Regions from separate parts of the Homo sapiens genome. Here region 1 is linked to region 2. Evidence: fine-mapped expression QTL. Tissue or cell type: aorta. Region 2 holds a variant in brackets; the other region holds the start of a gene. All regions are shown on one strand. Distances are between the middles of the regions.

What was found. PIP is the estimated chance that this variant, and not a neighbour inherited with it, causes the effect.
Region 1: SNRK-AS1 starts here. The variant in region 2 is the best candidate, but not a certain one, in a credible set for the expression of SNRK-AS1 in aorta (GTEx, PIP 0.57).

What each region holds. Positions count from the first base shown.
Region 1 is chr3:43,349,807-43,354,208 of GRCh38, forward strand. It overlaps SNRK-AS1 (SNRK antisense RNA 1), which reads right to left and starts at 2,156. Exons shown (of 3, transcript NR_046757.1): 1 at 1,792-2,156; 2 at 1,525-1,575; 3 at 1-171. SNRK (SNF related kinase) reads left to right here. Exons shown (of 7, transcript NM_017719.5): 7 at 1-1,337.
Region 2 is chr3:43,771,973-43,776,374 of GRCh38, forward strand. No RefSeq gene overlaps it. Among named protein-coding and RNA genes, the nearest start is that of ABHD5, 83 kb to the left of the region's middle. RefSeq lists an enhancer at 1,359-1,885. The variant G/A (reference allele first, on the strand shown) is at 1,896.

The sequences.
Region 1 (4,402 bases), 420 kb before region 2:
ATTGCTGATTATGGAAGGGGCCAGTTGCTGTTTTTTCATGCAGTGCCCTGGGAGTCTTAAAAGCAGTGCTTAGCAACATTGGTGATAGCATGTGGCTGGGACCCAGGGCCCTTCCCCACTCTTCAGCCCCGAGTCATGTGTCTGAGGTGACGGACTGAGACGCATCTGGTCCTGTAATTCAGAGAGTGGGCACATCACCAAAGAACTGCATTGCTGTGGTCACTGTTTCTTCAAGTACACACTGACTCTGCTACTTTAGGATAAATATATTTTACTCAGAACTCTGAATTTCACAGTATACTTACTAAACTAAGTAAAAATGATACTTAAAATACTTATTTTACTTTCTAGACCTAGGCTAGATGTTTTAAGCTACAGCTCTAGTTCATTGTGATATTTATAATTTGAAAGCTATGAGAATAGATGTGTGGGTGAAGCCATAGAACATATTTGCTTGAAATTCTTGAGCAGGGATCTTATAAAGGGCCAGAAATAAGATGTGTGGTTCACATAGATAGTGAGCGTAACATCTGTATTAAACATAGGAGAGAAGTTTATAAAGGGCATTGGCAATAAACTCTTTGTTGCAGCTGTTTTCCAAGCAGTGTAAATACTTTTTCCTGTGATTATGTATAGCCTTGGAATGGCACCTTTTAACTAACCCATATGTGTTTGGTTTCAATGGTTTTTTATATTCAGATGTATATATGGTGCTCACTTTAGGATCAGCAGTGTTGACCATTTATGCTGCATAGCTGTATTATAGCCTTATTAGTTGTGTGGTTGACCCTTGGGGTATACAAATGTCAGTCTGAGTGGTGTCTTACTCCTTTGTTTATAAGTGAATGATTGTGCATGTTTTGTATGTCATAGTATGTCGTCACATAAAAGGGAGGGAGCGAAAAACCATTACATTAAGATAATATTGGACCAAACTACTTACTTGCTCTAAACAGTTACTTGTACCCCTTAACCTGTCTTCAAAAGTTGCATATAGTTACAGTAGTGTATAAATTAAATATTGTGGAAAAACAGTCTTGTATTTTTCTGTATGTGTGTATATATATATAATTATGTACTTCTGGCAATTCTATCTGTATTTAAAGATGTGACAATCTTGACACCAATTTTAAGAATAGCTGTGAGACCGAATTAAAGATAATCCCTACCAAGTGAAAATTGATGTGTGTTAAGAGGGTACAGAATTATCAACTGATTTGGTCAGTTGCTTCCAATGCTGGTTGATTTCCCTCATTGTGTAAACATTGACAGGTATGTGACAAATGGGAAAAAAAATCCAAATAATAAAGTGACATATTGGTGTTCAGCAATATAAACCGTGTCCTGTGTTGTATTGCTTCTCATGAGTGTAGCTTTGTGTGATCCCACCTCAGTTAGACCCAGCCTTCTCCATGCCCTGTGCCTGCACCACCAGATTTGGCTGAAAAAGTACAGTCATTATTATGTTTAAACTCATGGCTACAAATCATAGGTGGGGCCAGGGTGCCCATTAAGTATACTTACTTTATTTCTCTATTTCATCTCCTTTCCTCACTCTGCTGGTCACCATGCTGCCTAATTGAATAAAGGGAAGCAATGAGAACTGCCACAAGTTCCCACCTCTGCCTTCCTCCCTTCCTTCATACACATTCACATGCTCTGCCCTTCCTCCTGTTACTGTGATTCCAAGGTCAGCTACTCTTACTCAGTTCTCACAACCATTACCATAATTGACTTTTACAACCCCCCCCCGCCCGCCAAAGAAATCTTGTGCCCTTTGGCATACTTTACCTTGTCCGCAACTCCCTTTACTCCAGCCTCATGCAACCACTTCCTGTGATCAATTTTCAATCCCATGTTAGAATTTGATGAATTGCTCACTTTCTTCCTTATGAACTTCCCATCTTTCAGTATCTCACTTCTGCCTTGCTGCTCTTCATGTCCACTGGTCCTTCCTCATTCTTCCAACCTCTAAATTTGGAATGTCCCAATGTTCAATTCTGGACCCCTGCTCTATCTGCAGTGACTCCTGATCTCAGTTAGTCTAGTATCTATATGCTGATAGAAGCCCAAAATATATTTAGCCCACATACCCTGGGAACACTGGATTTCAACTATCTATTTGACTTTTCTTCTTGGATGTGTCTGTGTGTCTACAGCATCTCAATTTTTACAAGTTCAAAACCCCTAATCTTTCCCCTCAAATCCTTTTACTAGCGCACCCATCTTAATAAATATCAACTCCTAGCCTTCAATAGTTTCATTCAAGCTGAAAATCTTGGTGTCATCCACTTTTTCATCCCAACATTCAGTTTATGAGCAAATCTTAACTTGCCTTTCACAGTTGACTCCTTCTCATTGCCACCACCACTACCACTCTAGTCCATGACACTCAACTGTAAATGCCTCTTAAAGGGTTTCCCTGCATTTGCCCTTGTCTTTCTCATTTATTTTCCACTTAGCAGTATGAGAGATCATTTTAAAGGCTAAATCATACCATGTTTTGAAACGTGTTTAGTTTCCAAATATTTGGGGTTTTCCCACATAGGTTTCTATAATTTTTAGTTTAATTCTATTTTTATCAGTGCATGCTTTCTATAGTTTAAATCTTTTGAAATTACTGAAACTTGTTTTATGGCCCAACATACGACCTATCTTGGTGAATGTTTCCTGAGTGCTTGGAAAGTGCTATTGGTGGAGTGTCCTATACATGTCAGTTCGTTCAAGTTGGTTGATAATGTTCAAGTTTTCTATATTCTTACTGATTTTCTGTCTCAATTATTGAGAGAGGAGTGTTGAAATCTCCAACTATAGTTGTGGATTTGTCTATTTCTCCTTTTAGTTCTAGCAGTGTTATTTTAGAAAATTTGAAGCTCTGTTGTTTGGTACATAAGCATTTAAGATTGTTACGTCATATCAATGAATTGATCCCTTTCCTCATGAAATGTTCCTTCTTTATGACTGGTAAACTATTTGTTCTGAAATCTACTTTGTGTGATAGTGATACAGTAACTCCAGCTTTTTTTTGACTTGTGAGAATATATCTTTTTCCATTCTTTACTGTTAACCTATTGTGTCTTTATGTTTAAAGTTTGTTTTTTGCAGATATCATATAGTTCGAGCTTGCTTTCTTATCCCATCAGCAAATGTCTGTCTTTGATTGAGGGTTTAGATGTATTACATTTAGTGTAATTGTCAATATGGTTGAGTTTAAACCTACCTAGTTTTCTATTTGTCTCGTCTGTTCTTTTTCCCTCTTTTGCTACCTTGTTTTGGTTTAACTGAGCACCTTTTGTTACTCCATTTTATCTCCGCTATTGGCTTATTGGCTGTAACTCTTGTTTTTCAGGGGGTGCTATAAGATTTGCAATACATGTATTTTATTATATCACAGTCTATCTTAATATATCACTTCATGTAGAATATAAAAACCTTACAACTGTATGCCTCTATTTTCCTCTTCCTGTTCCTTATACTACTGTTGTCATACATTTTATTTTTGTATATGTATAAATATTGTTTTAACTAGTTTTTAAGGGATTAAACAGGGGGGGGGGGAGTATTTTAGCTACATATTTGTCATTTGCAGCACTCTTCATTTCTTTGTGTAGATCCACAGTTTGGTTTTCCTTCTGCCTGTAGAACATTCTTTAACATTTCATATAATGCAGATCTGCTGGCATTACATTCTGTCAGCTTTTGTTTTGAAAAATTACTTTTCCTTTATGAAAGATATTATCATTGGGTATAAAAATTCTTGATTCATTTTTATTGCAATGCTGGACACTGAATTTTGCATTGTTGAATGCTGGAATTTTTTGTATTCGTGTGAGAAGTATTGGATTTCATTTTGGACTGCAGTTATTTAAAATCATTGGATCCTTCATGTCTCACTTTTAAACTGTTAGGGCAGATCCTGAGCAGTCTTCAGTCTAGGGCTAATTTGGCCCACTACTGAGGCAATACCTCTCTAGGGACTCTATTGAGGCTTTTCTACTCTGGCTGGTAGGAACATGAACTATTACCAGCCTTGGGTAAGTTCTGAGCATTGTTCAGCCTGCTGCTTTCCAGTGGTTCTTTCTCCAGCCTCAGGTAGTTTTCTCATAAGTACTGATCAGTACTCAACCAAAGACCACAGATTTTCTTTTGGAGCTTGCTCACTATCTGTGCAGCTCCCTCCTCTCTGCCCTGCACATTGATCTTGAACTTCAAACTACCTGCTCAACTCAACCAGACTATTTGGGCTTTCCCTCTCTGTGTTCTGGCAACTGCCTTTGGGCAGTGAGCTGGGGCATTCAACTCAGGGCTCACCTCATTTGCCTCCCTTCTCTCGGGGTGACAGCCCTATGCTGTCTGTTGCTCAATGTCTGGAAACTATTGCTCCATATATTTTGTTTGGTTT
Region 2 (4,402 bases):
CTCACAGTATTCCCGGGAGATGAGTATGAACAAGGATTATGAAAGAGTGAGAGTGACAGAGAGAGAAAGAGACAGAGACAGAGAGATAGATTAATATTAAAGTATAATATACAAACAGGTGTGCATATTATAAGTGCACAGGTCTCTGGATATTCATAAAGACTATTATTTAACTTCATTTTACTAAAAGAAAACTTAGGTTTAATGATGTGATATTCTGAAGTCTGTTTATGTGTCAAGCAATGGAGGCAGTATTCCAGATTACATCTCTTAATGTCCATGATTTGAAATGGATTTTTAAAATATTTAAAGTTTTGATTTTGATTTCTTTTGAGAGCAATATAATTTAATGGAAAATGGCAATGCCTTTATCTTATTAAGTTCATTACCACAAGTGGTTATATGAGAGGGAAATCAGGTGCTTTAAGCCATCCGCTCTTCTGTATTAAAACTCTTTATTTGGGGAATGAGAGTTCTACTGAAGTGTCTTAAGTAAAATTTGATTAAACTTAAGTAAAATTTGTTTAAAACTTGCAAGATGAACTTCATGGTTAAAGTCTAAAGTTTGCAGATTCAGAAAGACTTGAGGAAGGAACAGTGTACTTGAATTTTTTTTTGTAACATTTAATTAGTAGTGCATTGTTTACATCAACACTTTGTGGAATATTTTGGAGACTCAACAAAGCCTTCTTAAGGGTGGCCTGATCCTCGGCTTCCAAGTCTGTTTTTTAGCAGTGAAATGGCTTTCTTGTTCCCACATTTCAAAAAGAGGAAAACATTTCTGTCAGTTAAGCGAAGGGAGAGAGGAAGGTCTCACAATTGTGGTCGTGGTCAGGGGCGGAGACCTCTCCCCTTAGGATGCTCTACTTTTCTCCCTAGGGGGAGGTGACTGGGAGGGGACCTTTCTTCCAAGGTTTGGGAAACCTGGTAGATTCCTGCCTCTCTGGATGCTTTAATGGGGTCCCTGTGTGAAAGCAGGGGCTGGGGGTGTGTTACAAAGTCCCTTCCAATTCCATGAGAGCAGAATTTAGGGCAATTAGAAATTATCCCACCTGAGTCATCTTTCCCCTTCAAAGTGGTGTCTGAGGACTTTCTCAATTGACTCTGGAACAGGAGCAGAAAAACCCAATCAATTAGCCAATATCCAGTGACTGAGATGGACTGTCTCTGTCTGGGAATCGCTGGGGAAGCAGAGCCTGGAAAGGAGATTCATCTGGCAGGGGAGGGAAGATGAACGCTAAGGACTGGGAGAGCTGGACCAGTCAAGCTGAATTGGGCCTGACCCCCCAGTCCCACTCATAGTTAGACTCCAGACTCCAGACTCCAGACCCCAGGCAGTCACTTGAGAGGTCCAGCAGCTATGGCATGACAGGCAGTGGCCAGAGGAATTGCTCTCTGCCCCAGCCAGGCGGGAGCTTGCTCTGCCAGCAAAACCTGCAAGTCATCCTGCTGTAGCTGCCGGCCTGCAGAGACCAGCCCTGGTGGCAAGGAGGAGGTGTGAGGAGGAGGGAGCCTCTGGCAGCTTTTTGTTTCAGGCTAGAACTTTCTAGCAAGGCTTCAGAGCTGTCTGACCCACCTGCTGACTTATTCTCCCCTGCATTCCACTCCCCAAAGGCCACATCCGTCACACGCTGGCTTCCCCAGCCCAGGCATTCTCTCCTCGTGACATTGAGGCTGTGGAATTGTCCCTCCCTCCCTGGATCCCTGAGAACCCAGGAAGCCCACTTTCCCTCAATCACAGGCACATGGAGAGAATGAATTTCGTTTGGTTCATGTAAAGTTGGCTGGGTGATTTTGTTATTTTACTGGAACTAGTTGCCCACCTTTAAAAACTGGGAACTTTCACATATAAGCCCAGACTTCCTGCTTCTCTTGAAAGCCACTCTGGTGACACC[G/A]GGCCTGAGTCCCCATGTCGTCATGGAGGGGGTGTGCCATCTCTAGTGGCAACAGTTCTCACCTCTTCCATTTCTTGTGCCCCATTTATATGCCTCGCCCTCTTGGCCACAGAGTTAGTGCAAGCTCATCCTGGCACCTACAGAGGTGGAGAGCAGAGTGGGTGGTGTTCTGCCCCTGGACCACCTCCCCAGGGGACTGTGGGACTTCGTCTGCCTCCATAGCATCTGAGCCTGATCACCATCATGGCCCTTCCCATTTGTATTGAAATGATCCACTTTTTCCATGAGGATTATGGCCATTTATGGGCATTGGTTTAAATCTCCTTCCTCTCGCCTGGGGTCAGTTCATCTAATCACTTTTGGAGATGAATTTGGGGAAGTGATTCTCCACCTCCAAGACCCAAGGAAGGCTAAGTGGATCCAATGATTTTATTTCATTTTGAAGATGAAGAAACTGAGTCTCAGAGTGGTGTGTGGCATAGCTGACCTCTGCTAAGGAAGATCCTCCAGTGTGTGGCCTCCCTCTAGGTCACTGTCTACCCCAGGGTGGGCAACGGCATCCTTCAGGCAGGGGCTCTGGTGGGGGAGCCATAGTGGGAGAGTCCCTGGGTTGCCAGTTCCTATAGAAAGGCACATCACCGGCCGGGCGCGGTGGCTCACGCCTGTAATCCCAGCACTTTGGGAGGCCGAGGAGGGCGGATCACGAAGTCAGGAGATCGAGACAATTCTGGCTAACACGGTGAAACCCCGTCTCTACTAAAAATACAAAAAATTAGCCGGGCGAGGTGGCGGGCACCTCTAGTCCCAGCTACTCGGGAGGCTGAGGCAGGAGAATGGCGTGAACGCCGGGGGCGGAGCCTGCAGTGAGCCGAGATCGAGCCGCTGAACTCCAGCCTGGGAGACAGCGAGACTCCATCTCAAAAAAAAAAAAAAAAAAAAGTAAAAAAAGAGAAAGGCACATCACCCCTAGAGTGTTCTTCTCAGAGGGCCCACGTGGAGGATGCTGCCTGGCAGCCTGAGGGCAACAATCCAGCAGGTGAGCCCATGCCCTGCTCTGCCATCCATGCTCTCCCCTGAAAGGGGGCTCTGTGGAAGAGCCAGGTCCGCTGCACTCACCATCATTTCCAGTTGAGTGCCGTAACTAGGAGCTGTTCCCTCTGCAGGCAGGGGAATGCCAAGTGGGCCAGGAAAGCACAGTCAGTGGAGGAGGTGAAGAACTGTTTGAAAAAACTTCTTTCTCCAGCTTCCTCTTCAGCATATTCAGAAAGCTGCCTTCAGTGCCCTGTGGCTAGAAGGCAGGCTTTATAGCTCTGGGTACGTGTTGGGGTCCTCTTGGCTGGCATAGGTTTATAGCAAGAATTACTGGCCTTTGGAAGGGGTCAGAGAAGGGCTCCTGAGGACTTTAGTCTTGAAGCATGAGTTTGCAAGCCCAGGGGCTGGTGTGTGTCAGGGTGGTGGGGGGTATGTTTTGGTTAGGGGGATAGGTCTTGTCCTCAGGAAGACGAGGCTTGAGCTGTCTCCAAGTGAGCTCCACATGTGCTCTGTGTAGGGTAGAATTCCTGCCTCAGTAGCAGTGGTTGACCAGTTGTCCCAATAACAGGACACTCCATGTATTGGGAAAATTTAAAGGGGTTTTTAGCTCTGCCTCATTATTTTCTAACTGTGGAGCATCAAAAAGCCCAGAACCTCACTGTAAAGTGGGGATAATAACTCTTGCCCTCCCTGTCCTTCCATTTCATTGTGACTTCAAGTGAGAGGGTATTCATGGTGTGAAGATGTTTTGCAAGTTGTCAAGAGCCTTGCCGGGGAATAAGGTACAAGCTGAAAGCCCAACCCCTCCATCTCCATCCTCTGAAGCTCAGCTGGCCTGGTGGGGAGGTGGCCTTCTCTTGGAACTATCTGTCCAGCCCTATTTTCATGTACTCCACAGTGGGAATGTCAGACTTAGAGCTCTCATTGGAGGCAACAGGAAGCCGCCCATCTTCCCAGAGTATTGCATGCGCTGGAAGACTTGGGAGAAATCATGGTTTTTATATTAAAATAAACACTCATATATGATTATGTGCAATGCAAAGGTTCATGAATTTTAATGTTAAAGCAGGAGCAAAGAAATGTGCTTGTGGAGGGATGAGAGATGGAGGCTGCTTCCTGAGAGGACTCAGGGGGCTTCAACATTGTCTTCTGCCATTAAAGGTGTATTAGTGAAACATGTGAGAAACACTCTCATGGTGAGGAGGCACTGTGCTGGCCTCTGCAGGAGGAGAAGCAATGTTGAGGAGAGGGGACTGGCCCTGAGGGAACTCCACAAAGGGCAGCTTCCTTACCAGGCTATATGGGAGCACAGATAAAGGTACCAGAGGAAAGAGAGCTCATGACTGGCTGGAGGGATGGAGGTGATCGAAGGAGACTTCCTGGAGGAGGAGGAGAGATTTCAGGAGCTCACACACACATACTCAGAAGTGCAAGTCATGCTTCGTGACTGGCAGGAGAATCAGACCCGGGCCCAG